3 separate regions of the Homo sapiens genome follow, and regions 1 and 2 are each linked to region 3. Evidence: fine-mapped expression QTL. A gene starts in region 3. Each other region holds a variant in brackets. All regions are shown on one strand. Distances are from middle to middle. Region 1 holds the start of ING4 (inhibitor of growth family member 4). Region 2 holds the start of IFFO1 (intermediate filament family orphan 1). Region 3 holds the start of LPAR5 (lysophosphatidic acid receptor 5).

Region 1 (9,678 bases), 31 kb before region 3:
CTCTGGAAGTGATGCTCAAGGCTGAGGGGACTGTTTCTGGCCATAAGGTGGGGCCAAGGAAGACGCGTTCTGCTTTTCTTTTTCCTTGCCATTGTGTTTATCTTGTGTTCTTGAATGTTCGTTAGGACAGTTACTGTAGGAGCTGACTTGAATGCCAAATTGTGGGCTGCCTGTTCCTTGGGTGCCAAGTCCTCAGTCTCTCCTCCCCCAGCAGAGAGGAGCCTCAGCTTGAGCTGAGTGATGCAGGCATTGACCAGAAGCAAATCATCAGTACCTGATCCACATCAGAGAGGAAGGCTGGTGCCTCTTGGAGGCCCATCTGATGTGCCTCCTTAGGAGAGCAGGATGGGCCTGGAGAAGATTTGTTGAGCCAGTTCCTAAATGGTCTTGCTGACATTCTTTCCCTTTTTTCTCTTATCCTGTGCAGAATCCACACTGGTGATAGACCATACAAATGTGCACACCCAGGCTGTGAGAAAGCCTTCACACAACTCTCCAATCTGCAGGTAAATGTTCCACCCTCCACACAAGACCTTGAGTCTGAGACATGGGGCCATTTGAATAGTATCGTGGTTCTCAAATGTTTTCAGGACTCCTTTACACTCAAACATTATTGAGGGACCCAAAGAGTTTTTGTTTATGTGGGTAATAGCTGTCTACATAGACGTTGTAAAACTGAAAAACCTGAAAAATATTTATAATAGTAATCTGTTTAGAAAGAACAAAAATAAACCCATTGTGTGTTAACATAAATAACATATTCCAAGACCCTCCAAAAACAACTGAGTGAGAAGAATGGCATTATTATACATTTTTGCAGGTGTCTATTTTTTATTTTTGGGACAGGACCTTGCTCTGTCACCCAGGCTGAGTGCAGTGGTGTTATCATGGCCCACTGCAGCCTCAGCCTCCCGGTCTCAAGTGATCCTTCCACCTCAGCCTCCCAAGTAGCTGGGATTCTAGGCATGCACCATCACACCTGGCTGTTTTTTTCATTTTCGTAGAGATGGGGTCTTGCTATCTTCCCTAGGCTGGTCTCGAACTCCTGGACACAGGCCATCCTCCCGCCTCAGCCTCCCCAAAGTGCTAGGATTGCAAGCATGAGTCACCGCACCTGGCACAGGGGTCTTTAATGTCTTAAGCTAGAAGATGAGTAGATTCTCAGATCTGCTGCATCTGGCCTATTGTGTTATCACACATCATGTAACCTCTGTAAGGGTTACATGTAAAACATAAGGCACAATGAAGCCACTTGAAATTTTGAGGGGAACAAGATTTCAGTTAGGTTTTTCATCTTTGTGTTTGTGTGTGTGTGTGTGTGTGCGCGCGCGCGTGTGCGTGTTTGAGACAGAGGCTCGCTGGGTCACCTAGGCTGGAGTGCAGTGGTGTGATTTCAGCTTACTGCAACTTCCCAGGTTCAAGAGAGACAAAGGCAAACATTGTCTTATTATTTTGAAAAGATTTGGCTGGGCGCGGTGGCTCACACCTGTAATCTCAGCACTTTGGGCGGCGGAGGCGGGCGGATCACCTGAGCTCAGGAGTTGGAAACCAGCCTGGCCAACACGGTGAAACCTTGTCTCTACTAAAAATACAAAAAAAATTAGCCAGGCCTGGTGGCATGTGCCTGTAGTCCCAGCTACTTGCAGGCTGAGGCAGGAGAATCGCTTGAACCCGGGAAGCGGAGGTTGCAATGAGCCGAGATTGTGCCGCTGCACTCCAACCTGAGCGACAGAGTGAGAGACTTCATCTGGGAAAAAAAAAAAAAAAGAGTTTTGACCCTGTGGGCCCCCTGTGAAGGTCTTAGTGTTCCCTAAAGATCCCCATGCCTCATTTTAAGAACCACTGGACTGGTGAGACGGGCATAAGCTGTCTTGGGATCCTGGTATGTGCTACATGAGGTATGCTTCCACCCTTAGCCTGTAGCTTCTCAAGTTTCATTTGAAACAATTTCTACTTTCTTCAGATAGAGGGAGAAGCTGGGAGGCCTGACACCTACCTTTTTGCTTTCCATCGAGGTCAAGGGGGCAGGAGGAAAGAGTACAATGTATTCATTCTGGTTTCTCCCAATTTTCTCAGTCCCACAGACGGCAACACAACAAAGATAAACCCTTCAAGTGCCACAACTGTCATCGGGCGTACACGGATGCAGCCTCACTAGAGGTGCACCTGTCTACGCACACAGTGAAGCATGCCAAGGTGTACACCTGCACTATCTGCAGTCGGGCATACACATCAGTGAGTGCTCCGTTTCTTCTCTCCTTCCTCATAGTCCTCTAAGAGTACAGTCCACTTCACCCCATTTTCTGGGTAGAGATCTGTTGCAGTGAATACCCTGCCTCCCTAGCTCCAACTTAGCAGAACAGGTAAATATTCAGAAATTAATTAGACCCATTCTGAGGAATTTAGGGGATGCCTGATCTCCTAATCCTATAGAGACGCATAAGCTGTAATTCTTCATTTTACTTAAACATAAGGCAAAATAAAGCCACTTGAAATTTTGAGGGGAGCTGGATTTCAGTTAGGCATTTTCTTCTTCTTTTTTTTTTTTTTTTCTTTTTGAGACACAGTCTCGCCCTGTCACCCAGGCTGGAGTGCAGTGGTGTGATCTCGGCTCGGCTCACTGTAACCTCCACCTCCTGGGTTCAAGCGATTCTCCTGCCTCAGCCTCCCAAGTAGGTGGGATTACAGGTGCATGTTGCCATGCCCAGCAACTTTTTGTATTTTTAGTAGACATGGGGTTTCACCATGTTGCCCAGGCTGGTCTCAAACTCCTGACCTCAAGTGATCCACCTACCTCAGCCTCCCAAAGTACTGGGATTACAGGTGTGAGCCACCGCACCTGGCCCAGTTAGATATTTTCCATGAGACTCCAGAAAAGGTTGTAAAGTTGTTTCATTCAGGGGTCTTTGAAAAAAATAGCAGCTCATTCCTTTGCCAGTTGAATGTTGAGTGACTTCTAAAGGTTCCTCTCTTTTTTTTCTCAGTAGTGAGCCACTGAAAGTGCTACTTGAGTTTTGCTCAGTCTTGGCTCCAGAAAACCAGTATAAAGCTTACTCTGCTTACAGCAGAATCAGAGCCTGGGGTGCTAGTTACAAGTAATCTCTTTTCCTTCCTCTTTATCCCTCAACTTCTTTTTACCATCTCCCTCAGGAAACATACCTTATGAAACATATGCGCAAACACAACCCGCCTGATCTTCAGCAACAGGTGCAGGCAGCAGCAGCAGCGGCAGCAGTGGCCCAGGCCCAGGCTCAAGCTCAAGCCCAGGCTCAGGCTCAGGCTCAAGCCCAGGCCCAGGCCCAGGCCTCCCAGGCATCACAGCAGCAGCAGCAGCAGCAGCAGCAGCAGCAGCAGCAGCAGCAACAGCCACCACCACACTTCCAGTCTCCTGGGGCAGCCCCCCAGGGTGGGGGTGGTGGGGACAGCAATCCCAACCCTCCACCCCAGTGTTCCTTTGACCTGACCCCGTATAAGACGGCGGAGCATCATAAGGACATCTGCCTCACTGTCACCACCAGCACCATCCAGGTGGAGCACCTGGCCAGCTCTTAGAGATCCGTGCTGCCACCCACTGGGAAGAGGAAGAAGTAGTCCTGGTGTCTTCTTTCTCCAACTCTTGGTGGGAAAAGTCCTTTTCTTCCTTGACAGGCCTTGGCTCCATCTCCTTGGGCCTCTGTCACGGCTTTCCTTCACAGGATACCATCCTTTTTCTGAACTCTTCTTCAAAAGGAACATCAGCCCTCCTGATTGCAAAGGAATACTGAGCTGATGGTGTCATCCAGCAGCCTCCCCTCCCAAGCAAAGCTTCTAAAACTGGGGGTCGGTGCTCAAGGGAAGGATTTGCTATGACCTCATAGAACCTTGTCCAGTGTGGCCACTTACCCTATCCTTACCCTCCTTATCCTCAAAGTTTGGGCTGATGTAAGACTAGAGGCTGGCCCTCCCAGATAACAGAGAAAAGGGAGCCCCAAATGCAACCAGCCTCTTGTTCTATTCTTGCCTGCAAAAGAACAGAGGTTTCTCAAATGCCTCAGTCCCTGAGAGCCATTTCTTCCCCTACATCGTCTCACTTTGCTTCCTATTGACTGCTGGTAGAAGGAGATTTGGGGTAGGGGCTAGACCTCCTTTTATTTGAAGGGGGCAAGGGCTGAGATGTGGTCCCCAAGGGGCCAGAAATTCCCAAGTTGGTCACAGGTGGCTTAGAAGTGTGTGTTATGGTTTTACGGATTTCCTTGAAGCCTCTCTCCTTCTCTGCCTACAAAGACCCTATACTCTCAGTCTCCCCAACCCACCCCCAAGGAGCTGTGGGAGGCTTTGTGTTATCTGTGAAACTCCAAAACAGGGGTGTTGCGGAGAAGGGAGAGTTCAAGGCAAACGCAAGGACTGGACTTAGCTCCCTAGGTGCCACAGTCAGATGCCGGACACGGATTTATATATAAATATATATATATAAATATATTATAC[T/C]CACTCATCACGGCCATCTTTGTTGTAACCATTTCTGTGTTTATAAATGCATTATCTCTGAGAATTTTCATATTTGATGTTTTGTTTATTTTTGTCCTTTTTTTCCCTCTCTCCACCCCTGTCCTCTAGCCACAGCATTTTTCTTTTTGTCTTTTTTTTTTTTTTTTAAATCATGGCAGATTTCAGAGGAAAGGAAATTAAAAAAAAAATCAGGAAACCAGTTGTTATAAAGTAATTTAAAAATGAAGAAAAAAAGAAAAAAACTTATGTACAAACCAAGGGGTGTTTTTAGAACATTGTATAGAAATAAATTCATGTAAAAGGATCAGAGGCAGTGGAGCTACTGATGTGAGCGAGCATGCGGAAAAGGTATTTGGGGAGATGTCCAAGAACAGTACTGAGGATTTATACCAGAGTGTGTGTGTGATGAACAAGTGCTTGTGTGATGATGCCCCATTTGTGCAATTCTCCAGTCATGGAAGGGTACAGTTTCATGATGTCTCCAGTGAAATCCTGGTTTATGAGGACTTCTACATACACATTCTGTCATGGGGATTGCATTGCCTAAATATGTGAGAGCAAGGCTTTGGTTATGTGTTAACAAAACAGCTAAGCTCCCTATGGAAGAAAAATGGAAGCCTCTTGAAAGGACCTACACTCCTGCCTGAGTCTGTGGAAGAGGGGCTTGCAGTTGGCAATGTGTATACATATGTGTATTTGTTACCTTGTGGAAATCATAACCGGTTAAGGGGTGCAAGATTGATTTATGCAGGAGAGCTGTAGTACTATGGAGTAGAATGTGGTCATGAAACCTGGACTTCAGCCCTTTGCCTACCATCAACCAGTGTTGGCCAGGGTGCTTCTTCAACTGTTAGTGAAGGGATTGGACTAGATAACTCTGAAGATACCTTTTTTGAGAATTAAGTAACTTGCTTTAAGGCTGGGTGCGGTGGCTCACGCCTGTAATCCCAGCATTTTGGGAGGGCGAGGCAGGCAGACTACTTGACGTCAGGAGTTCAAGACCAGCCTGGCCAACATGGTGAAACCCCATCTCTACTAAAAATACAAAAATTGATGGCCGTGCACGGTGGCTCACGCCTGTAATCCCAGCACTTTGGGAGGCCGAGACAGGTGAATCATGAGGTTAGGAGCTCGAGACCAGCCTGGCCAGTATGGTGAAACCCCGTCTCTACTGAAAATACAAAAAATAAGCTAGGCATAGTGGTGGGCGCCTGCAATCCCAGCTACTCAGGAGGCTGAGGCAGGAGAATCTTTTGAACCTAGGAGGCAGAGGTTGCAGTGAGCCAAGATCGTGCCATGGCACTCCAGCCTGGGCGACAGAGTGAGACTCTCTCTCAAAAAAGTAAAATAAAAATACAAAAATTAGCCAGGTGTGGTGGCACGCGCCTGTAGTCCCAGCTGCAGGCTGAGGCAGAAGAATGACTTGAACCTGGGAGGCGGAGGTTGCAGTGAGCCGGGATTGCACCACTGCACTCCAGCCTGGGCCACAGAGCGAGATTCTGTCTGGAAAAAAAAAAAAAAACAAAAAAAAAAAAACCTTGCTTTAAGCACCGAAAAAGTTGTGAAAGTTGTGACCAAGCTCCCACATCCTGAGAACTCTGGGACTGCTGGCCAATAGTACTTGTTATGTAGTTGGGCTGGGATAAATAAAGCCCACTTAATTTAGTGCTAGATATCCTGTGTGGGCACCTAAGATGGTGTCTCAATATGTTGTGTAATACCAATGAATGTATCACATATGACCAAATATGCCAATGTTTCTTAGCTCCCTGCATATTTACTGCTTTTTCCTCCCACTCTCACCAACTCTTGAAAAGGCCCTAATGGCCCTAACTTCATCACCAGTATTAGAACTAGAATCTACTCTTTTTATGGATACACTCACACTCACTTATTCCAACAACCCTATGAGGGAGGTAGTAGTCTCATTGTATAGTAAAACAGGCACAGAGATCAAGTTACCGAAAAGCATGACTTTTGTAATTAGAGCAGTTTCCCGGATTCTATTGCTGTATCTTACTACCTGCACACTAGTAAACCTGGGGTTTACAGGCTACAGATCCTTTCAGCTCTGATACCCCCACCACTCTACAGCCCCTGAACCCCCTCCTCCAGCCTGCTCTTACTGTCCAGATAATGTTTCAAATACATCCCTGCATCCATCTCGAAGCAAAACAAAGCAACTTCCAATCCGCCCCGGGTTGGAAGTTCCTCTTCTCCACATATTTGGTAGAAATTATATAGCTGAAAGTCTGTCTCTTTAAAAACTTGCCGTAAGACATTGGTAATTCTTATGAAGGATGTGTGAGGGTACGAAAAGTGTGAGGGGTGGCAGCTATCTCTAAAATACTATCTTACTAACACCACTATTAGGTTATGGCCTTTGTGTTGGCAGTGTGTTGACAGCCTAGTGTGTTGGCAGCCTCTCATACCCTTGACTGCTTCCCATTCTGATGAAAACCATAGAAATCACTCTACCATAGCTGACTAGAGTGATGGCTAGCAACTAACTAGCCAACTAGCCCAGTAGTGATACTGCTGCATCCCTCAATCCCTTCAGAATTATGATGCTAACATCACATATAAACAAAAGGAAAACAAAAACACGAGATTTCCCCCTTAGAGAGTAGCAAGAGGGGCCAGGCACAGTGGTTCGCACCTGTAATCCCAGCACTTTGAGAGGCTGAGGTGGGCAGATCACCTGAGGTCGGAAGTTCGAGACCAGCCTCACCGACATGGAGAAACCCCATCTCTACTAAAAATACAAAATTAGTCTGGCGTGATGGTGCATACCTGTAATCCCAGCTACACGGGAGGCTGAGACAGAAGAATCACTTGAACCCGGGAGGTGGAGGTTGCGGTGAGCCATGATCACGCCATTGCACTCCAGCCTGGGCAATAAGAGTGAAAATTCTGTCTCAAAAAAAAAAAAAAAAAAGCAAGAGGGCAAGGCAGGAAGTAATATTTTATATGTGAAAGTGTATTCTAGTGTAACGTACAGGAGCTCTGACAAAAGATGTGCAGAATTATAGCTTTATTATGAGTCATTCTTTGTATTTATAAGTAGAAAGGTGATCATCTTTCTCAAGTTAAAAAAATAATGCTGGGGGAGATGGTGTTTGTGTGAGTGAATAGAAATTCAGACGGTTTAAATGTCTCAAGGCCTGATACTCTTCCCCAACTTCCTTAAGAAACTAACTGGCTTGAAAAAAGTCATTCTGCAAAAGAGGGAAAAAAAGTTGGATCTTCCAGTTGCTGAGAAGGTATGTTTACGCAATATGAGCCTAAAGTGAACAGTTACCCCTGCACGGATTACCATACATTCCCGTTTTGGAGGGAAAAAAGTTTGCTAGAGAATGCAAAATGGCGACCTCCAGTGACGTCATACCTGTCTCGGTCGCGTCCTGGGGTGTCTGTAAGGGCGGAAGCGGGCTACAGCCGCCTCACTGTGGGCGGTCGTGGCTACCATGCAAAAGGAAAAGTTTCAGTGTCGGGCGGATGTGTACCGGCGGTAATATAGTAAGGGCGGAAGTTCTCCTTTAAGGGCGGAAGTTCTCCTTTTAAGGGCGGAAGTTCTCCTTTTAAGGGCGGAAAGGCTTTAGCCGCAAAATGGCTTCGGCCCCTGTCGCGTTACAGTCACTTCCGGGGCGGATCGGAAGTTGCTTTGTTTTGCTTCGAGATGGCTGCGGGGATGTATTTGGAACATTATCTGGACAGTAAGAGCAGGCTGGAGGTGGGGGTCGGGGCTGCAGAGTGGTGCGGGGATCAGGGATGAGAGGATCTGTAGCCCTTAAGTTCCAGTGACGAGAAGGTCACAATTATGAAGCGGTTCTGTGGCAGGAAATATTGGAGGGTGCGGAGAAAGAGGGGGCGGGGCAGCAGGATCGAGGCCCCGCTGATGGGTGTAGACGAGGGAGGGGTGCGGTGTGGGGGTTAGAGACGTGTCTTGAAGGGCTAGTGTGCATGGCCAGGAAGATAGTTGCTGCCCCCATTCTCCAGGGTCTCCAGCCTCGGTAGATTTTTTTCCCCATAGTCGTTCAGAATCGTTATCACACACTGCCATTTGGAGAAGCGGTAAAGACCTCTCCTCCACTCCATTCTTCCTCAAAAGTGGCTTCTCATGGGGTTGAGAGTGGTGGTGATGAGTGACCACTGTCAGATGATGAACTAGAACGCTTCTCTTCATGGAGTAAAGATCTAATTCCCATCAAATGAAAATCTGGTGTTTATGCGATTTATGTAAACCACCCCTGCAGAAAGCCTATTGCTCTGTGCGCTTACATTTGTTTTAGGGCCCGGAGTCATTTATTCAACAAATATTTATTGAGGTCCTGCTATGGGTCAGACATAATGGCAGGCACTAGGGATAGAAAAATGAGTAAGACAAGGCTCCTGCCCTCAAGAAGCTCACGATCTAGTAGGAAACAGATTCTGCAAATAATTATAAAACACTGTGACAAGTGAGATAATGGAAATACATTAAAAAGGACACTTGGTAGGCAACCCTGGAGAAAAGGGGGGTAATTACCTGGGGATGTAGGAAAAGCTTTACAGCGGAGGTGATGTTTGAATAGGGTCTTGAAGGTTATTTGCCAGTGAGGAGAGAAAAAAGGAATTCCAGGTTGGGGAAAGCATCCGCAAAGGTACTGTGATGGGTTTGTGGCAAGGTCAAGGGTGTTTGATATTTATGACTCAGAGGTCAGCGTATTTGATATTTATGAATCTAAGGTAAGAAATTGAGAAAGGAGACTGGAGAAAGAGGCTGAGGCTAGATTGGACAAGGTCTTTTAAGCCAAACGAAGAAGTTTGCATTTTAAAGTAGAGTATGATTTTTATAGAGGAAAATGACTAATATATGGTAAATTGGAGCATGATATTGTTGATAACAGAGATCAATTAGTGATAACATTCCAGGACAGAGATAAGAACCTGATTTTAGGGAGTTACAGAAGTATTTAGGAGTTAAATATGAAAGGACTGACTGAATGACTGAGTGGTTGAGAGAGAAGGAAGAATCTAAGGTGGCTTCTTCCTGCTTAGAAAGTGAGGTAGACAGGCTGGGCACAGTAGCTCATGCCTGTAATCTCAGCACTTTGGGAGGCCAAGGCGGGCAGATCACTTGAGGTCAGGAGTTTGAGATCACCCTGTCCAACATGGTGAAGCCCAGTCTCTACTTTAAAAAAAAAAAAAAAT
Region 2 (9,678 bases), 78 kb after region 3:
ATCACCTGAGGTCAGGAGTTAGAGACCAGCCTGGCCAACATGGTGAAACCCCATCCTATGAAAAATACAAAAATTAGCCAGGCATGGTGGTACATGCCCGTTGTCCCAGCTACTCAGGAGGCTGAGGCACGAGAGAATCGCTTGAATCTGGGAGGTGGAGGTTGCTGTGAGCCGAGATTGCGCCACCTCACTCTAGCCTGGGCAACAGAGTGAGACTCCATCTCAAAAAAAAAAAAAAAAAATCTTCATCCCTTTTCAGGCTCTAATCAATCGTGGGGTTAACCTGGATCCCCTGGGCAAGTGGTCAAAGACTGGACTAGTGGTGTATGATTCTTCTGTGCCCATTGGTAAGTCTCCCCCACCCAAGAGCCCTTCTACCTCTGTCCCTGTCCCTACCGCATGTCACAGGGTGGTCCTTCTCCACAGGTGCTACCCCCGAGTACCTGGCTGGGCACTACATGCTGCAGGGAGCCTCCAGCATGTTGCCCGTCATGGCCTTGGCACCCCAGGAACATGAGCGGATCCTGGACATGTGTTGTGCCCCTGGAGGAAAGACCAGCTACATGGGTATGAGAGGGGCAGGCAGGTGGGATTCATCGGGCTGTCTTGCTTTTGAAAGTAGATGGGGTTGCTGGGGTTGCTGACTCACTAGTGCTCATGGAACACAATGTGCAGGTAGCTAGCAGGGTGGTGAGGACCAGTTTCTGGAGTCGGCCTGGGTTCCAGTGTGCCACTTACTACCCATCTGACTATGGATTCTCTTTTGTCATCCATAAAATGGGATGGTAATTGTGCTTGGGTTGGCCCTTGTATTACGCTTGGATTGTGAGGGTTAAAATGATGCGTTTAGAAGTCCTTGGCAGTGTTCAGCACATAGTCAGCAGCCATAACTTTTATTAAGCTGCTGTCACTTAAAAGAAGTAATTTAGTATGTAGGACCACATAGGTGTTTGGTAAAAATGGGAAAACCACATCGGTAGACTTGCCGATCACCAGGGGCTAGTGCAGAGTGGATCAGCCTATACAGTAGGCAGGCTTGTTGGGAGCGAAGTTGCCTTGAGGTGATGACACTTCTCATGTGGATTCCTGGACAGGAGGGTGGGAGCAAGTGTGGAGACAGTGGAACTGGCTGATCAGCACTGTTACTGCCCTCTCTTTAGCCCAGCTGATGAAGAACACGGGTGTGATCCTTGCCAATGACGCCAATGCTGAGCGGCTCAAGAGTGTTGTGGGCAACTTGCATCGGCTGGGAGTCACCAACACCATTATCAGCCACTATGATGGGCGCCAGTTCCCCAAGGTGAGACTCGAGCTGTGTGTCTTCTGAGGCTTCTTCCGGTTGACCTTCTCCCTTCCTGACCTCAATGTTTAGACTCGACCCTAGTAAATATTGCCCTGCTGGTTGCAGAAGAGACATATGATTCATCTGTATCTTTTCTCCAGGTGGTGGGGGGCTTTGACCGAGTACTGCTGGATGCTCCCTGCAGTGGCACTGGGGTCATCTCCAAGGATCCAGCCGTGAAGACTAACAAGGTGAGGAGTCAGGTGGTGGGCCCCTGAGAGGCCTTGGCTGGGTCTCGTAGAGCTGGAAACTGAGATGGGGACACCCTCTGGGCTCCCCTCTCCTCCTGAGGCTGCCTTTGGGTCTCTTTTTGGGACAGGATGAGAAGGACATCCTGCGCTGTGCTCACCTCCAGAAGGAGTTGCTCCTGAGTGCTATTGACTCTGTCAATGCGACCTCCAAGACAGGAGGCTACCTGGTTTACTGCACCTGTTCTATCACAGTGAGACCTCTGCCATGGCAGAGCAGGGGAGGCTGGGCTGGGGGGCTCTTTGCCCCTTAGAGCTCCCTTCAGCTCCAGCTCTGCTTTTTCCTCCGTTCTTTGTCTTCCCCCCACATCCAGGTAGAAGAGAATGAGTGGGTGGTAGACTATGCTCTGAAAAAGAGGAATGTGCGACTGGTGCCCACGGGCCTAGACTTTGGCCAGGAAGGTTTTACCCGCTTTCGAGAAAGGCGCTTCCACCCCAGTCTGCGTTCTACCCGACGCTTCTACCCTCATACCCACAATATGGATGGGTTCTTCATTGCCAAGTTCAAGAAATTTTCCAATTCTATCCCTCAGTCCCAGACAGGTAAGTAATCTTTTTCTTCCCTTCGTCACCACCTTTGCTCTTTCCACCTTTCAGGAGGCTTTATGGTGTGACAAGAGGAAGGGAAAGGAAAGATTCATGCATCCCTTACTCCAGCCTTTGCATGCTTGGCTGAGAGAACCCTCTCATTCCAGCTAGAATTGCTTTTGAGTGCTGGACCCCATGTGAACAGGCTAAAGTGTTCATATGGATGGAGGCCTGTTCCTTTATTCTGCCAAGTGGCTGCAGTTGTTCAGCACTAAATGCATTCCAAATGCAGGTTGTGGTTTCTTTTCCTTCTTGGCACAGGGTGGACTTACTGGTACTGGACCTCTGCTGGTCCAGCAATCTCAGCACTGGGTTGGAACAGAGCTCCACAGAGCTTTGTCAGCAGTTCTCTGAGCCCTTCACACTCATTGCAGATTGTTTTCTCAGCCATCTTGAGGAGTCTGGCCTGGATCTCAAGGGAAGGGTGGGGTTTTCTGAAACAGCCTTGAGAGCACTGCTTACTGGGATATAACCCTGGGTTTAGTTGGAAGAGGGAGAGAAGTGCTACTTTAGAAATAGTAGAATTTGTCTGGGCGTGGTGGCTCATGCCTGTAATCCCAGCACTCACCTGAGGTCAGGAATTCGACACGGTGAAACCCTGTCTCTACTAAAAATATAAGAATTAGCTGGGTGTGGCCAGGCACGGTGGCTCACGCCTGTAATCCCAGCACTTTGGGAGGCCAAGACGGGTGGATCACGAGGTCAGGAGATCGAGACCATCCTGGCTAACACAGTGAAACCCCCATCTCTACTAAAAATATAAAAAATTAGCTGAGCTTGGTGGTGGGCGCCTGTAGTCCCAGCTACTCGGGAGGCTGAGGCAGGAGAATGGCATGAACCCGGGAGGCGGAGCTTGCAGTGAGCTGAGATTGTGCCACTGCACTCCAGCCTGGGCGACAGAGTGAGACTCCGTCTCCAAAAAAAAAAATTAGCTAGGTGTGGTGGTACGTGCCTGTAGTCCCAACTACTCAGGAGGCTGAGGCAGGAGAATCACTTGAACCTGGGAGGTGGAGGTTGCAGTAAGCCGAGATCACGCTATTGCATTTCAGCCTGGGCAACGAGCAAAACTCCATCTCAAAAAAAAGGAATAGTAAAATTTGCTATAACTTAAAAAGTACATATTTTAATTATCCCGCACTTCATCACAATTCACATGGAAAGAAACTTCTCTGATTTAAAAAATAAATAGGCCAGGTGTGGTGATGGCTCATGCCTATAAATCCCAGTACTTTGGGAGGCTGAGGTGGGAAGATTGCTTAAGACCACGAGTTTGAGACCTGTCTGGGCAACAAAGGGAGACAGTAGTTCCAGCTACTCTGGAGGCTGAGGTAGGAGGATCCCTTGAGCCCCAGGAGTTTGAGGTTGCAGTGAGCTATGATGGCACCACTGTACTCCAGCCTGGGCAACACAGTGAGACTCTACCTCAAAAAAAAAAAAAAAAAGATAAATAAAGCCTAGTGCTTCAAATTCATTTAGAAGACCCTGCGAGGCCGGGCGTGGTGGCTCGCGCCTGTAACCCCAGCACTTTGGGTGGCTGAGGCAGGTGGATCACCTGAGGTCAGGAGTTCAAGACCAGCTGGTCAACATGGTGAAACCTCATCTCTACTAAAAATACAAAAATTAGCCGGACATGGTGGCGCACGGTTGTGATTGTCCGGAGGCTGAGGCAGGAGAATTGCTTGAACCCAGGAGGCAGAGGTTGCAGTGAGCCGAGATCACACCACTGCACTCCAGCCTGGGTGACAGAGTGAGATTCCATCTCAAAAAAAGAAAAAAAAAACCCCAAAACCCTGAGAATCACCTCTTCCTTACAGCATCTTGTTACTTCCTGTCCTCAAGAGGGCGCAGCTTCCTGTAGAAACCTTTTGGCCCAAGGATAGGCAGTGATTTTTTTTTTTTTTTTTTTTTTTTTGAGACGGTGTCTTGCTTTGTCGCTCAGGCTGGACTGCAGTGGTGCAATCTCAGCTCATTGCAACCTCCACCTTCCAGGTTCAAGCGATTCTTGTGCCTCAGACTCCCAAGTAGCTAGGATTACAGGTGTGTACCACCATCCCTGGCTAATTTTTGTATTTTTAGTAGAGATGGTTTCACCATGTGGGCTAGGCTGGTCTTGAACTCCTGGCCTCAAGCAATCCACTTGCCTTGGCCTCCCAAAGTGCTGGAATTACAGGTGTGAGCCACCACGCCTGGCCTATAGGCAGTGATCTTTTAATACAAGGTTCAACTAGGACTTGAGTAAAGGCCAAGTTATATTAAGTAATGGGAATTTAGGTAATCTGCTCTTAGGCACTGACCTAATTGTGTGGAGCTCCTGCCCAGGAAATGGCAATTCTCATATTTTAATATGAGAATATTAAAATATGGTGATAAGGCCCATTTTCTGACACCATCTGTTTAATTTTAACCCCAGGAAATTCTGAAACAGCCACACCTACAAATGTAGACTTGCCTCAGGTCATCCCCAAGTCTGAGAACAGCAGCCAGCCAGCCAAGAAAGCCAAGGGGGCTGCAAAGACAAAGCAGCAGCTGCAGAAACAGCAACATCCCAAGAAGGCCTCCTTCCAGAAGCTGAATGGCATCTCCAAAGGGGCAGACTCAGAATTGTCCACTGTACCTTCTGTCACAAAGACCCAAGCTTCCTCCAGCTTCCAGGATAGCAGTCAGCCAGCTGGAAAAGCCGAAGGGATCAGGGAGCCAAAGGTGACTGGGAAGCTAAAGCAAC[G/A]ATCACCTAAATTACAGTCCTCCAAGAAAGTTGCTTTCCTCAGGCAGAATGCCCCTCCCAAGGGCACAGACACACAAACACCGGCTGTGTTATCCCCATCCAAGACTCAGGCCACCCTGAAACCTAAGGACCATCATCAGCCCCTTGGAAGGGCCAAGGGGGTTGAGAAGCAGCAGTTGCCAGAGCAGCCTTTTGAGAAAGCTGCCTTCCAGAAACAGAATGATACCCCCAAGGGGCCTCAGCCTCCCACTGTGTCTCCCATCCGTTCCAGCCGCCCCCCACCAGCAAAGAGGAAGAAATCTCAGTCCAGGGGCAACAGCCAGCTGCTGCTATCTTAGATGGTTGAAAACTAGACGGGTGGCTCACTGCCATTGTCACCAGGTTGGAACTCTTGCCTCTGTGAGGATGCCTTCTCTACTGTGCATACCCATGAAATTTAATACACATTTTAAAACCTCTGGCCACTGAGTATTTTTGAGGGAACTGGGTGCTGCCTTTGCCGCTTTAAGGGTAAAGATGGGAGGTGGGACTGGGATCTTCTGAGGAGAGGGAATGGTTGGGTGCTACTGAGAAATAAGGTCAGTTTTAGGCTCCTGCATCCTTGGGTTTTCCCAGGAAGGGAAAGCCCTGGAGTCAGAGCTAGGGGTGATTGAACTCCGGGGAGAGGAGGGCAATAGAAGTGTAGGGGAAGGCGGGGCACACTAGCTCATGCCTGTAATCCCAGCACTTTCTGGGAGGCCAAGGCGGGTGGATCACCTGAGGTCAGGTGTTCGAGACCAGCCTGGCTAACATGGCGAAACCTCGTCTCTACTAAAAATACAAAAAATCAGCCGGGTGTGGTGGCGGGTGCCTGTAATCCCAGCTACTCGGGAGACTGAAGCAGGAGAATCGCTTGAACCTGGGAGGCTGAGGTTGCAGTGAGCCAAGATCGCGCCACTGCACTCCAGCCCGGGCGACAGTGAGACTCGGTCTCAAAAAAAAAAAAAGTCGTGTAGGGGAGATGGGCTTGCCACCAGAACCCATGGGGTACTGGAGGTCCTGGGCTTTACGCCACCCCGGCTGGAGTCCAGGCGGTGGCTCCCCTCATCACAGGGCTCGGCCTCAGACCCGGAAAGGTCCAGGGTCCGGCCTCCAATTGGAGCCTGTCATTGGCTTCCCCTCGGCCCGCCCCCTGACCTCTGCCCCGCTGCCGAGCCGCCTGATTGGTCGGCTCTGTCCCGCCGGCGCCGCATTGGCTCTTCTGGCTCGCCTTCCATCCCTGCTCCTGCACCGGTCTGCATCTCCCAGCAGAAGGCGCAGCCATGAATCCGTTATTCGGCCCCAACCTCTTCCTCCTGCAGCAGGAGCAGCAGGGCCTGGCCGGGCCACTGGGGGACTCACTGGGAGGCGACCACTTCGCCGGGGGAGGAGACTTGCCCCCGGCGCCTCTCTCGCCGGCCGGCCCTGCTGCCTACTCGCCGCCCGGGCCGGGCCCGGCCCCGCCTGCCGCCATGGCCCTCCGCAATGACCTGGGCTCCAACATCAACGTGCTCAAGACCCTGAACCTCCGGTTCCGCTGCTTCCTGGCCAAGGTGCATGAGCTGGAGCGCCGGAACCGGCTGTTGGAGAAGCAACTGCAGCAAGCGCTGGAGGAGGGTAAGCAGGGCCGGCGGGGCCTGGGTCGTCGCGACCAGGCAGTGCAGACCGGCTTCGTCAGCCCCATCCGGCCCCTGGGGCTGCAGCTGGGCGCCCGGCCGGCCGCTGTCTGCAGCCCTTCGGCGCGCGTGCTGGGCTCGCCCGCGCGCTCCCCGGCCGGCCCCCTCGCGCCCTCCGCGGCCAGCCTCTCGTCGTCCTCCACCTCCACCTCCACCACCTATTCCTCGTCGGCCCGCTTCATGCCCGGCACCATCTGGTCGTTCTCGCACGCCCGCCGGCTCGGGCCGGGACTGGAGCCCACTCTGGTGCAAGGGCCTGGCTTGTCGTGGGTGCACCCGGATGGGGTGGGCGTCCAGATCGACACCATCACGCCCGAGATCCGCGCTCTCTACAACGTGCTGGCCAAAGTGAAGCGGGAGCGGGACGAGTACAAGCGGAGGTAGGGATTGGGAAAGGGGGACAGGTCTCTCTGTGTCATACCACTCACAACGGGCCGCGAGTTGGTGTGGGTTCCGAAGAATCAGGGGTGAAAAGAATGAGAGTAAAGTTTGTGCTGTGTAATGAGGAGCTTGGAAGCAATTGGATGCAGGGAGACTAGAATCCGCAGAGAATGCAGAAGCCCTGCTCGTGACAGGAAGAAGGACGCTGGGAGCGGAACACGGGGGGATTCCTACTTTTCCGGCTTGTCTCTGCCATCCAGGCTTAACTGCGGGTTTTGTGCGGTGTGAAAGGGACTGGGGCTCTGCCCTACCGGTCTCAGCCCTGGGGCAGGTTAGGGATATAAACTTCAAAAGTAGGAGGCAAGGATATAGCGTAAATTTGGGAGACTAAATTGAGTGAAACTGGAAGGGGCTGGTGAGGGAGGGGCTGTACCTTGCAACGAGTGATTCTTTCACACCCCAAGGTTTCCCAAAGAATATTGATGGAAACCAGGTACCTGCTGTGGTTTCATAGGAAAAGCTCCGGGACCTCAAGCCATTGCTTGAGTAGGTCAACAAACTGGGAAAAGAAAGAGTGAAGGGAATTCACTAGGGTGAGGGTGGAGAGCAGGGCTGACAGGGGAATCTTGGCAGTATAAAGCGCCAGTGGGGAGGGAGAGTGGAGAGCCAGCAGGGGACTGAGCAGGGAGAAGCTGGGATATGGGCCCTCCCTAGGACCGCGAGGCCGCGGGGCGGGCCCGGTGCATTCTGTGGATGAAGATTTGGCTGTCTGAGAGGAGCCCGGCCCCAAGGGGCAAGGGAAAGGGATGTGATGCCAGGAGTGCTGGCTGTATACCAAGTGGATTCCTTAGATGGCTGATAACCAAGCCGATAGGACAGGAGTGAGAGCAGAGGTAGTGTCTTGCAGACTCCAACCCAAGCCTTGAGGAGGGAGCGGGTGACTGACAGGCTTTGGTTTGGCGGCCTCCCCTCTCATCTCAGCTATTATGACCCCTTGTGGGCGGGCCTGGGAACTACCTATGCAGCCCAGTGTGGCGGAGATTCAGCACTGGGTGAGGATTGGCCGAATGTTCTAGGAAATGACCGCTGGGTCTAGGGGCGACCTTCAGGGATCTCCACCCTGCTGGAGTTTACCAGATCACAGATCAGCAGGCTTTCTTTTTTTTTTTTTCCCATAAATGATAATATTTTATTATAGAAAAAGCATCCCAAATACAGGATTTCGTAAACACTGGTAGGTGAACAAGTGCAATTTTAGAAGTAAATGCAAAGTAAAGAGGCAAAACCTACAAGCATTTTGCCTTCAGAAGAAGATGTAGTGTTCTCCTGCACTAGTGATCCCACCCAGAACACAAATGTGGCTCTGTCTCCCGTGAAAGCATCAGATTTGCTTTCTGAGCTCAGTATGCCCATTTCAATAATTGCAAAGTGATGGCAAGAAGTGGCGTTGAACACATGACTACAGACCCTTGACTTAAAATATTGAGACAGGGACTTGCTCTGTCATCCGGGCTGGAGTGCAGTAGCGTCATCACAGCTCACTGCAGCCTCATCCTCCTGGGCTCAAGCAATCATCCTGCCTCAGCCTCTTGAGTAGCTGGGACTACAGGTGTGCACTACCATGTCCATGCCTGGCTATTTTTTTTTTTTCTTTTTGCGTTGTCCAGGCCAGTCTCAAACTCCTGACCTGATCAGCAGGCTTTCTGAGCTTGAGTCCTGTCCTCGTGCTGGCTTCCTTAGTTGTGGTCCATGTTATGTGTCCTTGGGAGTTTCAGTTGTCCTGAAATCATCGTTCTGCCACCCAGAACCAGCCTGCTCTGCCCCTGCAGGAGTTAACTACGCGCTCAGCAGTGGCACAGGCACAGTTCTGGAATACATCCATAACCACAGGAACAACTGCTGTTCTCAGGAGCATTTTTTTTTTAAACTGAAGGAGCGTTTGTCCTTGGTCCAGCTGTCCAGGACAGGAAGGAGTTATTCCTTGGGGACTGATTAGCTCATCGCTCTGCAGCACGCTGCTGTGTAGAGAGCCTTAGCTGGATTCGGATGGTGCGTGATACTGGCAGTGACTCTTCTTCCTCCCTAGATTCCCTGCCCTCATTCTGGTCTCTTTATAGCAACACTGTAACTCCTGTCTTCTGCCTGGAAGGCCTGGGATGGCTTGAGCGCTACACTGGGAGGTAGCTAAAGGCCTCCTGCGTTCTATTTTCAGCTCCCCTGCCTTGTGCGTGACCTTTTTTTGAGCCCCCATTTTCCCAACATAGGAATGGTCCCTGCTTTCTCTCTTCAACCCAGGGATACAGTTTTTTGGAAGAGAGATATTTGGTCCATGCAGAACACATGGATATCGCTCTCAAATTCTGCCCATGTTAAGGGAACCTTATAAGTGAGACCAGATGGAAATGGAGGTGAAAATGAACCTGTCTGTGTGAAGTCTGGCCAAAGAACAAATAGAACTGTAGTGGGCTTCCAGATGATTCATTTGTAGATTTTTTTTACCCTGTAAGATTTCCTTAGGCTTAACCTTTAGCTATAACTGCCTTACTTAAGTTTCTTCCAGGCTCTGTTGAGCTCACTGTCAGATAGCCCCTCCTGCCCTCTTTCACACATCTTGTCCAGGGTTAGCGTGCCCTTGACAGGCTTACTGTCTCCCTCCAGGGACTCGTGGGCTCCCGGCGCATGAGGGCACCACAGTTCATGCCT
Region 3 (9,678 bases):
CCCCACCCCACCCTCCACCAATAGAGCAGGCAAAGGAGTGGGGACCCAGAGGGCTGAGAAAACAGGAGCTAGAGGTTCTGGTCCCAACTCTGCCAGTTACTTGCTGGGTGGCTGTGATCAAGTCACTTCCTACTCAATCAAAGAGTCATCTCTACAAGAAATGACTGAGTGACACGTGCACCACTGCCCAACCCTGTGATCCAGGACTTCCCGGCCTTAGCCTGACGGGCTTCCCAGCTCTTCCAGTGCCTTCCCTGCTCAATTAAATCAACTTGGCTCCCCGTTCCCCTGAGTTACCTCCCCTGTGGAATGACCTGTTGTTTTAGATCCAGGCCTCTCCTCCTGTAGTTAGCAGGGAAAACCAAGGCAAGGAAAAGTAAGGGCAGCTGAAGCAAGGGCTGGTAGCTGAGCTGGGGGGCCCATGTCCAGCTCTTGTCCCTGGGCCCCTTGATCTGGAATGGGGAGGCGAGGTCCAAAGAAGGCAGTGACTCACTTCCCCCTTCCCTTATCTACCATTACCAGAAAAATCCTTGACATCAGGCCACTAATCGGGTCCCTGTCCCATGTTCTGGACCCTTATCTACCCCGTCCTGCCCCATTCCCGCTTCCTCAGCCACTTTCCCAGTAAGCTGACTGGCAGCCTCATACTCTCCCAGGCTCCTGGCTTCTTCCCAGCAACCTGTGACAGAGCGGCAGGGGAAAGGCAGAGGGAAAGCGGAGTGAGGGGCCGCCTGTGTGTGGAAGACCTGGGTCTTGGGCCACACCCTGCCCCTGGCTCTGCCCTAGCAGATATTCCCTGGAGTGCTGCTGCCTGGTGAGGCTTCTGATACCCTCTTCCCTCTCTCTGGCTCTTGGCTTAGATTTGTGACACAGACTATATCCAGTACCCAAACTACTGTTCCTTCAAAAGCCAGCAGTGTCTGATGAGAAACCGCAATCGGAAGGTGAGCACCCCTGCCCTGCCCCTCCTTCTCCCAGCACCCCCTCAATCAGTCACCATAACTGGTCTATTCTGAGGCCCCCTCTGCGAGCAGCTAGGATGTGGAAAGCGGTTCCTGCTTGCATCTCTGGGGCAGAGGCCTCCACCAGCAGGCTCTCCTCCATTCCTCCAGTCCTGGCGGAAGCAAGGCCCTCCTAGGCAGCTGGTGGATAACAGAGGAGGGTCCTAAGAGCACCACAGGAAGAACCCTTGGCTGGGCCAGGACTTGGACGTTGAGGTCTCGGTCTGTCTCCTCTTCTTACTCACCAAGTAGCCTGGGATGAGGCACTTCCCCCTCTGAGCCTCAGCCGCCTGTTTCTGCATGAAAGGGGTTGGGCTGCTTGATGTCTCCTCTGGCTTTAAAAACCCACATTTGAGTTTCCTCCTTCCCTCTACTGCCCTGTGCCCATGCCTGCCCACCTCTCGTTCTTTTGGGCTTCTGACACCTCCCCTCCTCCCCACTCCTGGCACCTGGCTCTGTGATACAGACCGTCTGCACTGAATCTCTGTGTAGGTGTCCCGCATGAGATGTCTGCAGAATGAGACTTACAGTGCGCTGAGCCCTGGCAAAAGTGAGGACGTTGTGCTTCGATGGAGCCAGGAGTTCAGCACCTTGACTCTAGGCCAGTTCGGATGAGCTGGCGTCTATTCTGCCCACACCCCAGCCCAACCTGCCCACGTTCTCTATTGTTTTGAGACCCCATTGCTTTCAGGCTGCCCCTTCTGGGTCTGTTACTCGGCCCCTACTCACATTTCCTTGGGTTGGAGCAACAGTCCCAGAGAGGGCCACGGTGGGAGCTGCGCCCTCCTTAAAAGATGACTTTACATAAAATGTTGATCTTCAGCCTGTGTGGCCTGTTCTGGTTATGATCCCCATCCTCAGCACTGCTACCCTGCCCCGTGGCAGTCAGTCCCCAACCCCTGGTTTTATGGATCCACCTGCCGGTGAGAGAATCTCATGGGAATGGTGCTCAGGGAAGCAGCCATCTGCCAGGAGAAGCAGAAGACCTGAGAACCCAGGGAGGTGAACTGAGGAAGGCCAAGAAGGCTGGGGCCCTAGGGATGATGTGGGCATGTGGGCACCTGTCTTCATTTCTGAAGCCCTAAGCCCCGTGATGTCAGATGCGAGTGTAGTATTGTTCCTCTGTAGGATAAAGGCCAAAGCCTGATGAGATCTTTTCCAAAGGGACCAATCCTGGGGTATAGGGAGTGTGCACCTTGCACTTAATCAGGAAGGGAAAAACCAGGAACTATAGCCTAGATCAGGAAACCTTGGGGTTGTTTTTGTTGTTGTTGTTTTGTGTTTGAGACAGGGTCTCGCTCTGTCACCCAGGCTGGAGTGCAGTGGCATGATCACCACCCACTGCAGTCTTGACCTCCTGGGCTCCAGCCACACTCCTACCTCAGCCTCTCAGGTCCCTGTGACCACAGGAATGTGCCACTAAGCCTGGCTAATTTTTATATTTTTTTGTAGAGATGGGGTCCCTCCATGTTGCCCAGGTTGGTCTCGAACTCCTGGGCTCAAGCAATTTTCCCACCTCGGCCTCCCAAAGTGCTGGGATTACAGGAAGGAAACCCTTGGTGTACAGGAATTTGCCAGATGATCTGGATGTTTAAGTGGTTGCATCTTAACAACCTACATTGAGGTATGACTCCAGCATTGGCCTTTATTATTATTATTATTATTAGTGAGACGGAGTCTTGTTCTGTTGCCTGGGCTAGAGTGCAGTGGCACTATCTTGGCTCACTGCAACCTCCGCCTCCTGGGTTCACGTGATTCTCTTGCCTCAGCCTCCTAAGTAGCTGGGATTACAGGCGCACACCACCATGCCCGGCTAATTTTTTGTGTATTTTTAGTAGAGAAGGGGTTTCACTATGTTGGCCAGACTGGTCTTGAACTCCTGACCTCGTGATCTGCCCGCCTCGGCCTCCCAAAGTGTTGGGATTACAGGTGTGATCCACCGTGCCTGGCTCAGCATTGGCCTTTAATAAGTTGACATATCCCAAAGTATGTTCCAGGGACACTGTAGAGTCTCTCTCCCTTCTATAGGTTCGCAGTAATTAACAGCATTTTGTTAAAGCTTGCTTACTATGACAGTTCAAACATGCACAAAAATAGAAAAGTATAATGCACTGTCATGTACCCTTCACCCAGTTTCCATGATCAACACAAGGCCTATCATCTGACAGCATGTTAAGGCCCTCCGGAGCGCGGTAATAGAGAAACCTGTTTAACCTAGTGCTTCCCAAACTCATTTCACCACAATCCCTTTTCCACCTACCACCAAAAAACTTGAACTTGTTTTTATTTATTGAGCATGGACAACATGCCCAGCCCTGTGCCCACAGGGCCACTTGTCTCTGTGTTGTCTGGCCCGAGGACACAAGACAACGGGCTGAGGAGAAACAGACCTAAGCAAAGAGGAACCATCCAGCCTAGTGACTGCTCGATGCGGGAGCCAAGTGTGCTCAGTGGGAGGCAGGACCTAGCAGAGCACTGTCATGAAGAGGGCCCCGGGCAGGGTGGGGCACAAGCCACGAGTGGCATGGACTAAGCCACGAGTAGCATGGACTAAACCACCTGGCAGACCTAGGAAAGGAAGACAGACACCCAGGGGGAACCGGTGAGGACAGCGAGAGGCTGGTGGGTTAGTCATCTGGCATCAGACGGTGGGTGTGCCAGGAAGAGTTCCCAGACACAGCAGGAATATCTGAACGATGGGTGGGGGCAGTTCCTAGTCGGGGCTGGATTAAGTATCCTTAGCTGCTGGGGTTTCTTCTCTGGCCAGTCCGTGAAGGCCTCTGAGGGCAATGCTTCCTCTTCACTCTCTCCTTGGCCCGTGTGGGGTTGGGTGAGTGCACTGAGCTGGGAGGGATGGGCTGAGATCTGCTGAGGTGGGTGTGTCCCCTCCCGCCCTGGGAGCAGGTCCTACCAGCCCAGCCCAGCCCAGCCCAGCCCAGAGCAGGCAGCGGAAGCCAGCTTGGGGCAGCGCAGAGCAACACGGAGCACAGGTATGGGGGTGTCACGAATTGAACTGCACAGGGAGCACAAGGGGAGCACCCCCCTGTAGAAATGGGAGATTTGGGTGGGGGACAGAGAAGAGGGTGGGCATGGGCCCTGGAAAACCCTTCTGAACAGAGTAAAAAGCCGAAAGGAGCTGCCTCAAATAGACAGATCTTTTCAGATGGCGCTGGACAAACAGCTAACATGCCTGCTACACCTCGGGAGTGCTCCTCTTTGATGCTTGAAGCCCCCACTCTGGGGCATCTCGCAGAGGCTGTGTCCTCCCCCTCCCCCTCTAGGCCCCCACTGTGGAACTGAGCCTTGGGCCTCCCAGGGAGGGCCCTCTGGGGACTGTTTACACACTTTTTCCACTCGCAGTTAAACCTCAACCCCTACACCACACATCCCCCAGGGCCAGGCAGATGACAATGAGCTGATCTAATCAAACTTGCTAATGGGTTGACTGGCAGAGATGTGTTCTCAGTGTTATCCTTCCCAACTAGCCAAGGTGTACTGTAATGGGGTCTTCAGGAAGTGCTGCCTTAACCCAAAAGGTGCATCTATATAAGGGGATTAGACTGATGGTCTTTGATGTCCCTATGGCTCTGATAGATGGTGGCTTCAGGGGATGGAATTTTGGAGGTGGGGGACATATTCGGAGGTCAGCAGGGCTTTATGATACCTTCACATCACACCATGAGGATGGGGCCTACCTCTTCCCTGTGGTTGTGGGGCCCCCATGACAAGAAGGGGACCTCCACCAGATTGTATCTCCAGAACTACTCCTTTTTTTCTCTCTTCCTTCCTTCCTTTCTTTTTTTTTTTTTTGAGACAGAGTCTCCCTTTGTCACCCAGGCTGGAGTGCAGTGGCACGCTCTCAGCTCACTGCAACCTCCGCCTCCTGGGTTCAAGCAATTCTCTGCCTCAGCCTCCTGAGTAGCTGGGATTATAGGTACGCACCACCATGCCCGGCTAATTTTTGCATTTTTAGTAGAGACAGGGTTTTACCATCTTGGCCAGGCTGGTCTTGAACTCCTGACCTCATGATCCACCTGCCTCGGCCTCCCAAAGTGCTGGGATTACAGGCATAAGCCACGGTGCCCAGCCATTTTTTTTTTCAAGACAGGATCTCACTCTGTTGCCCAGGCTGGAGTGCAGTGGCATGAACATGGCTCACTGCAGCCTCAAACTCCTGGGTTCAAGCAATCCTCCCACTTCAGCCTCCCGAGTACCTGGGACTACAGGCAGGCACCACCATGCCCGGCTAATTTTTTTTTTTTTTGAGATGGGGTCTCGCTCTGTCGTCTAGGCTAAAGTGCAGTGGCATGATCTAGACTCACTGCAAACTCCGCCTCCTGGGTTCAAGCTATTATCCTGCCTCAGCCTCCAGAATAGCTGGAAATATAGGCTTGAGCCACCACAACCAGCTACTTTTTGTATTTTTTTTGGGTGTGTGTGTGTTTGTGTAGAGACAGGGTTTCACCATGTTGCCCAGGCTGGTCTTGAACTCGCGCTAAAGTGATCCATTCGCCTCTGCCTCCCAAAGTGCTGGGATTACAGGCGCGAGTCACACACTCGGCCTCTGTTAGTTTTTTGAAATTTTTTTGTAGAGCGGAGCGTGGTGGCTCACACCTGTAATCCCAGCACTTTGGGAGGCCAAGGCGGGCAGATCACAAGGTCAAGAGATCGAGACCATCCCAGGCAACATGGTGAAACCCCCGTCTCTACTGAAAAGACAAAAATTAGTTGGGCACGGTGGCACGCACCTATAGTCCCAGCTGCTCGGGAGGCTGAGGCAGGAGAATCCCTTGAACCCGGGAGGCGGAGGTTGCAGTGAGCTGAGATCACACCACTGCACTCAAGCCTGGCAACAGAGCGAGACTCTATCTCAAAAAAAAAATATTTTTTGTAGAGATGGGGTCCCACTATGCTGCCCAGGCTGGCAGAAATCCTCCTTTTAGGGTGAGCTAAAGTTGTAGACCCAGTGGGACATGGAGGCAGGGATTGAGGTGAGACAGAAACTTACTCACATGCAGTATGTACAGGACTCACCACCCAGCCACTCAGAGGCACTAGAGCCCAACTCCATCTGTCTGATGCCATCTGCTCTCCCTACTCTGCTGCCCCCAGTGCATACCCCAGGACATACCTACTGACAGAGATCTTTTATGCCCAGGGGCATTTTAAAAAGCCCAGGAGAATGGCCGGGCACAGTGGCTCACGCCTGTAATCCCAGCACTTTGGGAGGCTGAGGAGGGCAGATCACCTGAGGTCAGGCATTCAAGACCAGCCTGGCCAACACAGTGAAAACCCATCTCTACTAAAAATACAAAAATTAGCCAGGCGTGGTGGCGGGCGCCTGTAGTCTCAGCTACTCGGGAGACTGAGGCAGGAGAATTGCGTGAACCCGGGAGGCGGAGGTTGCAGTGAGCTGAGATTGCACCACTGTACTCCAGCCTAGGTAACACAGCAAGCGAGACTCCATCTCAGAAAAAAAAAAAACAAAACCCAGGAGAAGGAACCGGCAAGAGCAGTGAGGGCTGAAGCCAGTGCACTCTAAAGTCAGGTGAGGTCAGCAAAGCCCACAGGCTCTGGTGGATTTCCCTGAGGAAGCAGGACCTGCCAGGCTACAAGCAAGGGTCAGATGCACACAGACCACCTCAGGACACAGGTCAGGGGGCTGGGCCTGCCTCCGTGGCTTCTCTTGGGACTGACTTTCTTGCTTTTCCAGCTCTCGAAAGCAGGGTAAAGGGAGAGGCACAATGGCAAGGTGATATCCGCACATCAGGGAAACTAGTTATTGAGCTGTAGACCACCTTTGCTTTCTGCCTTTTCCCAGACAAATGTCAGGAGGGATGAGGTCAGAGTACTCAGGGAGGGAGAAGCCAGGGCCGAGGATGATGCTGGAAATGCAGGAAAAGACAGGCTTCAGCAGAGAAGGGTGGGGAAAGGCAGGAGCAGGAATTCTGGCTGGAGAAGCAGGCAGGCCTGGGCCAGGGAGGAGGGAAGACACGACCTGACACCCGGGATCCGTGCCAGAGACTCCTCTCTGAGGAAGAATGTGGCCCCTGGGCAGAAGGAGGCCTCCCCGCCCACCCTGGGGACTTTGTACTGTCTCCAAACCTTGAGGATGAGGATTCATCCTCCTGTTCCATTTAGTCTTCCATCTCATCCCTGCCCCTCAGGACCAGGATAAGCGGAAGAAAAGGATTCATTTGTGCCCTCAAAACAGCTCTGGGACAGAGCTTTTCACAAAGGCTTTGGACTGAGCTAAGCTTCTGCTGGAGGCTCAGCACAGCTGGGGTCTGTTTGGAGGGCCTGGATACAGAGATACTGAGTCTTCATGATGAAGCCTGTCTGTGGGGAAAGGGTGCATCCTCCCAGCGCTGCCTGAACACAGAAGCAGAGGAAGTAGGCTTCGCTAATTCAGCGAGTGGGTTAGAGTACATACTAAAGAGGGACTTCCTGTGTCGGGGCTGAGACACTGATGGGCCACGAGACTCTAAAATGAGGGTGGGGCTATTCCAGAGCTGATTCTCAGGGGCAAGGAGGATGGGGAGATGTAAGAACCTTCTTTTCAGACCTCTGACCCTAGGAATTGGAGTCAGGGGACCCAGGATGTGAATTATTTGAAAGAGGAGGCAGGCCGGGTCCAGTGGCTCACGCCTGTAATTCCAGCACTTTGGGTGGCCGAGGCAGGCAGATCACAAGGTCAGGAGTTCAAGACCAGTCTGGCCAATATAGTGAAACCCCGTCTCTACGAAAAATACAAAAAATTAGCCGGGTGTGGTGGTGTGCGCCTGTAATCCCAGCTACTCAGGGGGCTGAGGCAGGAGAATCGCGTGAATCCGGGAGGCAGAGGTTGCAGTGAGCTGAGATTGCACCGTTGCACTCCAGCTCAGGCGACAGTGCGAGACTCCGTCTCAAAAACAAAAGAAAAAAAAACGGAAAGAAAGAAAGGAGGCAAAAGACAGAGCAAGGCATGTGGTGTTTGCGGGGAGGTGGGCAACACAGGAAGGGTATGGGGGAGGAACTGGGCAAAGAGGAGGCATTCCCCTGCCCCTGCCCTTCTCATTGTTCCCAGCCCCCTGGTCCTTTCTCTTCAGCTCCCCTCAACGTCATTTGCCCAAGAGGCTGGATACCAGGGCAGGGTGTGTGGAGGAGAGTGAGGGAATGATCATGATTGCACCTCCTGCTCACTTTTACACTCTTGTTCTCACTTCCTGCCTCTGGCATAAAATAGCCCTGCCCCTCTGGCTTATCTCAGCAAAGAGCAGTGCCCAGCCCAGCTCAGAGGGCAAATGGGACAGATCCCAGAGGCCCTGAGGAGGTAAGTAACCTGGCCCCCGGATGTGTACATGGGAAGCTGAAGGACGGAGACCCAGGGAGAAGGAAGGTGGCTGCACACATTCTGGTGTGTGAGCGGTGTTGGGGTGGGTGATATAGAAGGAGCAGTCCCGGACCCTCTGTGTGTGTCGTGGTCACTTTGCTCCTCAGTGCCTTGGGGTTGAGATCTCCCATGCTTGTGAAGCTGCCTGGTTCTGTCTGTGTAAGGATACTGTCCCTAAGGCAGGGCCTTCTTTCTCTTCCTCCCCAGCCCAGTTGTCTATGCACATACGTGTTTATTACAGGATGTGTATAGACACTGAGTTCTATGTTACTAGGGGTCTTGTGTGCACATCTCTTAGCGTGTGTGTATATGTGTCTGTGCACACACGTGTAATGAGTGGTATACTTACCTGACATCAGTGTGTGCCGACGTTCTTCAGCCTATGGGGGCCTCCATGTCCCTCCTTCCTGGTGTTCCTTCTTTTCTGGGGCAGCTGCCATTTCTTTGATTCCTGCATCTCTCCTACAGCCTGACCTCTTCTTCAAGGCAGGATTGGGGGAGAGGGTCTGGGCTGCCCCTCCCCAACACCTAGATTCCCTCCTTCCACATCCTGTTAGCCTCCTTTTTGGCAGTTTTTTCCATCTTCGCCATCTGGCCTGGCACTGTGCCCATTCAGCTCCTGAAGGGAGCCCCAGGGCTCGGGAAGCAGAAGTGTGGGATGGGGACCAGGCCAGGGGCCTGGCAGCTCTCAGTGCTCAGCTTGGGCCGTTCTGTGTGACTGTCAGAAAGAGGCGGCTTTTTGACCACCAGGATCCTTTATAAAGATGGGCTGGGGCCAGGTGCGGTGGCTCATGCCTATAATCTCAGCACTTTGGGAGGCCGAGCCGGGTGGATCAACTCAGGTCAGGAGTTCAATACCAGCCTGACCAATATGGTGAAACCTGTCTCTACTAAAAATACAAAAATTAGCCAGGCATGGTGGCGTGCACCTGTAGTCCCAGCTACTCAGGAGGCTGAGACAAGAGAATTGCTTGAACCTGGGAGGAAAAGGTTGCAGTGAGCTGAGACTGTACCACTGCACTCCAGCCTGGGCAACGGGGAGACTCCGTCTCAAAAAAAAAAAAAAAAAAAAAAAAAAAAAAAAAAAAAAAGATGGGCTGGGTGCAGTGGTTCACTCTTGTAATTCCAGCACCCAGCACTTTGGGAAGCCGAGGTCTGCAGATCACTTGAGGTCAGGAGACCAGCCTAGCCTGACCAACATGGTGAAACCCCATTTCTACTGAAAACACAAAAAATTAGGCAGGTGTGGTGGTGCGAGCTATGATCCCAGCTACTTGGGTGGCTGAGGCACGAGAATTGCTTGAA

The links. PIP is the estimated chance that this variant, and not a neighbour inherited with it, causes the effect.
Region 1: its variant is fine-mapped to the expression of LPAR5 in whole blood (INTERVAL, PIP above 0.99).
Region 2: its variant is fine-mapped to the expression of LPAR5 in whole blood (TOPMed, PIP above 0.99).

Annotation. Positions count from the first base shown.
Region 1 is chr12:6,661,588-6,671,265 of GRCh38, reverse strand. It overlaps ING4 (inhibitor of growth family member 4), which reads left to right and starts at 8,147. Exons shown (of 8, transcript NM_016162.4): 1 at 8,147-8,201. The coding sequence starts at 8,165. ZNF384 (zinc finger protein 384) reads left to right here. Exons shown (of 12, transcript NM_001385745.1): 10 at 428-506; 11 at 2,077-2,235; 12 at 3,151-4,789. The coding sequence ends at 3,552. RefSeq lists an enhancer at 8,117-8,176. The variant T/C (reference allele first, on the strand shown) is at 4,465.
Region 2 is chr12:6,552,553-6,562,230 of GRCh38, reverse strand. IFFO1 (intermediate filament family orphan 1) reads left to right here and starts at 6,189. Exons shown (of 10, transcript NM_001193457.2): 1 at 6,189-6,974. The coding sequence starts at 6,202. It overlaps NOP2 (NOP2 nucleolar protein), which reads left to right. Exons shown (of 16, transcript NM_001258308.2): 10 at 260-347; 11 at 427-567; 12 at 1,161-1,300; 13 at 1,444-1,533; 14 at 1,662-1,784; 15 at 1,905-2,133; 16 at 4,589-5,360. The coding sequence ends at 5,238. RefSeq lists silencers at 6,012-6,171, 6,222-6,461, 6,572-6,751 and enhancers at 7,212-7,712, 7,713-8,213. The variant G/A (reference allele first, on the strand shown) is at 4,901.
Region 3 is chr12:6,630,220-6,639,897 of GRCh38, reverse strand. LPAR5 (lysophosphatidic acid receptor 5) reads left to right here and starts at 3,939. Exons shown (of 2, transcript NM_020400.6): 1 at 3,939-3,991. ACRBP (acrosin binding protein) reads left to right here. Exons shown (of 10, transcript NM_032489.3): 9 at 861-944; 10 at 1,494-1,823. The coding sequence ends at 1,616. RefSeq lists enhancers at 1,002-1,061, 6,938-6,997, 7,848-7,897 and a silencer at 5,973-6,022.